2 linked regions of the Homo sapiens genome follow. The protein of the gene in region 1 interacts with the protein of each later gene in a pairwise test. Each region holds a gene or a part of one and is shown on either strand. Other genes may lie near its edges.

Evidence for each region.
Region 2: the proteins of KHDRBS2 (region 1) and RPP30 interact in a two-hybrid assay, tested with the Homo sapiens proteins (one large-scale study listed by BioGRID).

Annotation. Positions count from the first base shown.
Region 1 is NC_000006.12:61,894,594-61,898,424, forward strand, and holds part of KHDRBS2 (KH domain-containing, RNA-binding, signal transduction-associated protein 2), read right to left. Parts: intron 241-3,831; coding exon 42-240; intron 1-41. UniProt on the Homo sapiens protein: RNA-binding protein that plays a role in the regulation of alternative splicing and influences mRNA splice site selection and exon inclusion. Binds both poly(A) and poly(U) homopolymers. Phosphorylation by PTK6 inhibits its RNA-binding ability.
Region 2 is NC_000010.11:90,895,938-90,899,627, reverse strand, and holds part of RPP30 (ribonuclease P protein subunit p30), read right to left. Parts: intron 3,316-3,690; coding exon 3,236-3,315; intron 1-3,235. UniProt on the Homo sapiens protein: Component of ribonuclease P, a ribonucleoprotein complex that generates mature tRNA molecules by cleaving their 5'-ends. Also a component of the MRP ribonuclease complex, which cleaves pre-rRNA sequences.

The sequences.
Region 1 (3,831 bases):
ATTTAACTCATCCTTACAACTTATTTCTTAAGAGTACTTACATATTCTTCATAAGCTTCATGGGCTGGAGGAGGAGGTGCCCTGTATCCTGGCACTGTTGGTGCCCCCCGGGCTCGAGGGGTAGGGACACCTCTTGCTACAGGTGGCACTGGAAGCGCTCCACGGGTTACAGTGCTTCCCCGAGGGGTGAGAACACCTCGTCCAGGTGGTGGGGGAGGAGGAATGGCACCCCCACGGCCCCTAAGAGAAACAAGTCATGTATAGATGAGAAACAGGTGATGAGAGAAAAGGGCCTATCACAGAAAAAGTTTTCATCTCACAGCCTCCATACAATGAAATAAATACAAATTTCTCTCTCTCTCTCTGTGTGTGTGTGTGTGTATGCATTTAATAGAAATTATATAAGATATAAAGTGTGTTGATATCTATAGAAGACAATAATTGTAAACACTGACTATGATTAGTTCTTATAAAAACCATGTAAAATACTTTGTTATTGTCTTTTATATAACTAAAAACCCAAAGCCAGAAAAAAAAAAAAAACCCAAACAAAAACCCACTCTGAATATAACCCCATTAAATTCCAAATTCTCGAAGAAGACACAAATCAGAGCATCGTCTGATATATGACTCACTGGACCATCTCTGAAACTGAGCGGTTTCAGATGTCTGCATCTCCTTTATGCTGGGGATTACAGATAGTGATGGACAATGCTGTCATTTACCAAAAAAAAAGGTGGCTGCACTTAAATAAAATGTGGGAATCTAACCATAGTGATATCATTCTGTTTACTATAGCTGCTTAAGTTTGAGATTACTTGAAATCACAACTCTTTGTCACTGATTTATCATCATGCCTGTAACCCCCTGAACTGGTGCAGTCCCTGACAGAATATATTTTCTTAACCATAACTATGGTGTTAGAGGAATACTTTAGTATCTGTAATAAAAATAACAGACTGAATACTCTGTATTGCAGTTCTTGATACAAAATTGACTTGCACTAAAAGTGTAAGATCAAATGGTTGTGGCCAATTTTTATGGCATTTTGAAGCCTTTAGAATGGTTGAGTGTTTGTCTGAAGTCTTTGGGCAAAAGAACAGTTATTTCACTTTTTATTTTGTCTGAAAGGTTGGCCTCTAGATAGCACTGCTTTCAGTGGGAACACTAAAGCTTTGGGGAAAAAAATGATGATCATTGAGATGTCAACAATCACAGTATTTGGCTGTAGGCACATATGGGGACATAGGTTATGCTGTCTGCTATGAATAGCAGTCAGATGGCTCTTTCTTGCTTAAAATAAAAGTGAGCATTTATAAGTGAAGGGTACGAATGCTGGCAAAACCTTTAAAATTTTTAAATAGATTACAGAGCTGATGAATAGAGAAATGATGAGAGAATTTATTGTGAGTCTAATGTATAAAGAATACTCTCCTAGATTGGGAGAAGGTGAAACACAAAGACCCAGAGGCCCAGTGCTGGCTGCAAGTACAACATGGCTAAGAATACAGTATTCTGTATTACCATGATAATACATAAAGGGATGTAAAAACCAATTTTGCCTTCACTGCTCCTCCAAGCACATTTCTGTTTCCTCATAAGCAAGATGAGCATATGTCCAGGTTTTATAACTGTTGTCCTAGCTTCCTGTTCAGTTTAGCATTTTAACACTCTCAAAAATATCCATGTGTGGGCAATAAATTATATGGTCACCCTACTCTATTCACGAGCCTTCGCTATACCCTTGAATAGTCATGGGTAAGTATTATAACTACCTAGGCTTAAGATAGATATTTTTTTTTCTAATGAGTAAAATGCAGATTTCTAAATTTATAGTACTTCCTTCTGCTCTAATATTATATGATGCTCATATCAAATCTAATTTTCCATTTTCTTCCTTCATCAACTGACTACCAGACACAGCCCTAGCAAACCTGCCTCCTGAACCTGACTCATTACCTCTTATCCACTATGTTCTTTCCCTGGAATATTAACCTCATTGTTCTCTCCTCCAATTTAATTCAAATCACTTTTTTTAGGATACTGCCCCTGGCTAAAACCACACCACAGTATCCTGTCGTTTATTTGTCTGACTTGCTGAAAGAATATTTTCTGTTTAATTCTTTACTTCCTCTACATTCCTGAACTGAATGTTATCAGTCTAGTTCTTGCTTTCACCCCTCTGTTGAAAATGCTCTTGGCTGAGATCACCAGTAGCCTACTGATTTCCAAATCCACTAGATTTCTTTACAGTCTCCATGCCACAGCACCTTTCTACTATTTTTAAGATTGTGGACTATTATCTGGAAAATGTTTCTTTGGACTTTTATGACTCTGCTTTTCTCTACTTTTCCTCATTCCTCCTTATTCGTTATCCTCCTTCACTGGCTTGTATTCCTGGACCCACTTTGGAATCTGGATGTCCCCAGTTTCTATCCTCGATCTCATGGTTGCACCCTGCAATCCCTACCTCTGATGATGGCTATAATCTGTTTTCTTCCTAACATAATGCCATATCTTGGCTTGTGTTCCTTATATCAGAAGTTTCTTAACTTGCCTGCATGTTAAAGTTACTTGAGGATCTTTTGAAAATTCCAAATTCCAGGCCATACCCTAGGCCAATTAAACCACAATCTCTGGAGACAGGGAGCTCCCAGTGATTCCAAAATACAGGCCAATTTGGGAACCACTGCCTTAAATGAATACTCCAATTTAAGCATCTTGACAAGCTTGTCATGTGGGCAGTTCTAAGTTTTTTAAAAATACATTGAGATATTAAGGCATGGAGAGAACAAGTCACCTGCCCAAGGTCACACCAGCAATCCACAGAGCTCAGATTATTTACAAGAATAATTATATTCTTCATTTAATTTGATCCTTCACCTACTCTTAGTTAATGATATCATCAATTTCTCACCAGGCTAGACACCAAAAATTTATCTTTCTCTTGGGGAACTCTTCTTCTCCAACGTTTAATTGGCATTAATTCATATAAATGTTAATCTCTAATCTGGCCCTATCCCTGTCTATTCCAAATGCTGCTCATTTTTATCTGCCTTGGATGATGGAATTGTTTTCTCATTGGCTCCCCTGCCATAAGACGGTTTCTCTGTCTCTGTCTCTCTCTCTCTCTCTCTCTCTCAATCACTGTAACTCTTCTGCATCAACCACAGTGATAATTGAGTAGTCTTTCGCATAAACAAATATGACTACTCTCCTCTTTAACAAACTCTATTAGTTCTATGTATTCGTTCTCAACGTGGTAAACAAAAGCCTTCAAAATTTACCCCGATGTTTCGTTTTTCAGTGACTGCACTCACTGCAACATATAGTGGTGATGTGTGTTAGAGATGTCATATATTTTCATTCATCAATTATGCAAAATAAATTATTATTACAATATATAGATGTAATGCTTTGTTCTCTGGTATACATTATTATTGGAAAATTAGAGTTATCATAGATAGGATTATTGAAATGTAAATTGTTTTAATTAAATACACTTTCAACAAATTATAGAGCTTAAAATATTCTAGACATCATCTTTTTGAATATAAGTGTAATTAAATAACTTCATAAAGTAATAATTTCATAACAATTCAAATTAGGAATTGTTAACTCATGTTATGCAAAGTTCTCTTATTAATAAGATTTTCTATTTTGTAAAGCTATTTTCTTTTTTTTTGTGGGCATTTGGTATGACCAATCTTTAATTTTCAAGCAATAACAAATATATAGTATCGAGCACTTACTAAATATCCGATACAGTTGTAAATGTCTTTACATGTAATACATTTAATGTTTTATTGTAAGTCTCTAAGTGATTATTGT
Region 2 (3,690 bases), on another chromosome or scaffold:
AATATGGCTGATGTGAAGTAGGAATACAAAAAAATTAGGAGAAAATAGAGTTTGGAAGGGTAACTTATGAAAGGCCATAGTGTCATGAAAACAGACCCAAACTCTGTCCTTAGAAATGGAAAGGGATTATGGAGAAAGAGAGAGATACCCATTAGCTACAAAGGTGGCAGAATCAAAAGAACTTGAACAGAAATTTAGCTATGAATTATTCCTTATTTCAAGTAATAAACGTAAAGTCAACCATAAAGTGTTAAGCATTATTTTCCCATTTATCAAGATTAACTTAGTAAATCTACTCTGCCAATTATTTTAAAACACTTTTATTTGTAAAAGGGATAAAACTGCTCTCAAGGTCATTAAAATGCCAACATAATAAGAACCTCAAAATAAAAACTGTCAATGATTTCCATTTCACCAAATGAAAAACGTCACACTTATAGCTATTAATTTATGTCACTGATTCTGTACCCATAGTCTAAAAATCAACTGAAATATAAACATTATGAAAATCAGCACTTTTTAACAAAATGCATTAATTTCTTTAGTGTCTTTTAAAAATAAATGCATTTCTTGGTAACAGCAAGACGTTACATTTGTGTATGCTTTAGTTTATAAAATGTTTTCACATATAGTATTTCCTTTAATCATCTTGCCAAGGAAAATCTAAAGGATTATCTACGAGTGAATAATTTTGTTCACAAGGGGCTAAGGCAGGTGTCCCCAACAGGTTCATTTTGGTCCAGGGGCTGATTGAGGGCATGAACTTTATCAATCACAGGCCAAAGACCCTGACCTTGGGCCTCTTTCCTCTGTCCTTTCCCCACAACCTCCTCAGAATTGCTATTCATTGGTTTCTAGATTTCTGGACCCCCAAAGAACCTAATTCTGATTTCCTGTGGCAAGCCTTCCAAGTTGAAAGCTAACTACCATGTGTCCCAACTCTTCTGCTTGCCAGGTATCCATGTCTGCACCACCCTCGTGATTCCTCTCATCATGAGGCTTCCAGACCCTTTAAGGACTGAGTAGACATTTTCCAATAGTGTTTCAGTGCACTGCTGTCCTTCTTAAATGTGGCACTCAGAATGATACAGATGCCGGCTGAGATTTCATCAATGAGAGTATAATAACGAGGCTTTGAATTTCCTTGTCTCAGAATCCTTTATTTCTTCTAATATTACCTAGGCTGAATTAGCAATCTTAAGAACACATCATACTACCGTCTCATACTGATCCCAATGGCAACGAAAACCAGGGTAACCATATTTTATCATCTAGTTTAGGACTCTCTTCAGGGAATAGAAGTGCTAATAAGGTCACAGAAACAGCAGGCATAAACTAGAACTGTCCTGGGTACACTGGGGTGAATGGTAATGCCACCCAAAGTTCACAAGTCTTCTTTAAGTTTAGCTTCTATAAAAGCCTGATTTTAGACACAGAAAGACAAACATCACATGTTCTCACTTGTTTGTGGGATCTAAAAATCAAAGCAACTGAACTCCTGGAGACAGAAAGTAGAAGGATGGTTACCAGAGGCTGGGAAGGGTAGTGGGGGGCTGAGAGGGAGGTGAAGATGGTTAATGGGTACAAAAAAAATAGAATGAACAAGGTCTAGTATATGATAGCACAAGAGGGTGACCATAGTCAATACAATTTAATTGTATATTTAAAAATAACTAAAAAAGCATAATTGGATTGTTTATAACACAAGACATATGCTTGAGGGGATGGACACCCCATTTTCCATGATGTAATTATTATGCATTGCATGCCTATATCAAAATATCTCAGTACCCCATAAATATATACACATACTATGTACCCACAAAAAGAAATTCTAAAAAAAAATACTTTACATATTATGTGTTATATGCTGAATAGCTGAGTTCTTAAAGTCAAATGCAGGACTTCCTATTTTCCTATATATAAAATTATGTATGTATTTATATTTTAGTTTCTGTTTCTTGTTTAGTCCATTTTGGAACCCCAACTGTTACTCAAAATCCTGATGAATGTTTATTTAAAATAGATCAAAATAATGACAGAACTATCAAAGTGTGAACCAACTGTTCCCTAATTTCAAGAAAATCATTATTCAAAATCTCCATTAATTTGACCACTCCCAAAGCTTATGTGATGAGTTCTAGGCTACATAATACAAAAATCTCAAACTAAAAATGTTGAAACTAAAAGCAAAATCATCTAATTTACGGCAAGCCAATACATAAGCAGTTCTCTCAAGTGGAAATCAGATCAATAAAGCCCAACACACAAGCCCTCAATAACCTAGCTATTCATATGACAAATAACTCAGTCTATATGTAGCAATCTACTTTGAAGTTTAAAATTCACTTGGGTGATATCAATGAAATTGCTTCTTAACCACTACAACTAGTCCTAAGAATTATAAAGATAACGAAGACAAAACAGTGATCAAAAGCTTAAATTGTTTTAATAAAATTTCACTTTCATTTTCCAAAGTTTCAGCATACTTTCAATTTTTAACATCTGATGAGCAGGAAACTCAGTCAGTGAAAAGGTACATATACAAAATGTGAGTAAAAAATGTACAGTCTGGCCGGGCATGGTGGCTCATGTCTGTAATCCTAGCACTTTGGGAGGCTGAGGTAGGAGGATTGCTTGAGCCCAGGAGTTCAAGACCAGCCTGGGCAACATAGTGAGACTCTGTCTCTATTTAGAAAAAGAAAAAAAAATAAAAAAGGTACAGTCTGGACACAACTTGACCATGTAAGCAAACATGAGAAAAGAAACATTCTGAGTTATAATAAATGTAAAAGTTACAGTCTATGTTTTGTTAGTTGGATTTTTAAAAATGTATTTGCTGGTTTTGTTTTCCTAATAAATAGTTTAACACATATTTTTAACATATCCGTTCTCTAAAACAGAGATTTTCAACAGGGAAAGCATGGCCTTCTGGTGAGGGAGAAGAAGGAAGGGAGATTAGAAGCCTATCAAAATGTCGGCAGGAGCACACATGTATAGCTGGAAGAACTATTCAATACTTATTTCTGTAATGAAAACTATATTCATTCTACAAACTTTAGAAAGTAAAGCCTGAAGTGAGGGTGAGAAAACACTGATGACTGTGTTTAGAACAGGTTGAGAAAAGATGATCCCAAAGGAACTCTGTAGGGTAGGGCAATAAAAATAGGTATGGCTGTAAAAATGACTTGCTTTTAACATGACCATTCAGTTTGTACTGGAAGAACTTGCTTACCTCCATGGAGAAGCGCTGCTCGGCAGTTGGTGGACACCGCAGCCTTGGCGTCACTTTCAGAGAGCCCAAACAGCAAGCCTCTTGGGGGAGCATTAAAGATTTCAACCCAGAGTCACCCAAGGACACGAGACTAACACAAACATAACAGAAAGTGCCAGCTAACCTGGTCATCTTGAGAGGCTAATTAATTCAACAGCAGTTCTTAGTCCAACTGGAACATGCATCTGAGAAAAGACTCATTTAACTCTAAGCTTTTATCATATGAAGTCCCTCATTCCCTCTTTTCTATCTCATGATTAATTAAAAAACAGAAGCATAAAGCTCTCTATAATGTTATATAATTTATTTTTGAAGTTATTAATTGGTAAACTTACAGTAAAAGGTTGAGAAAAATACATGTTCAACTATAATACGACTTCAAATTCAAAATTTCCTGAAAGACAATGTCAACAACT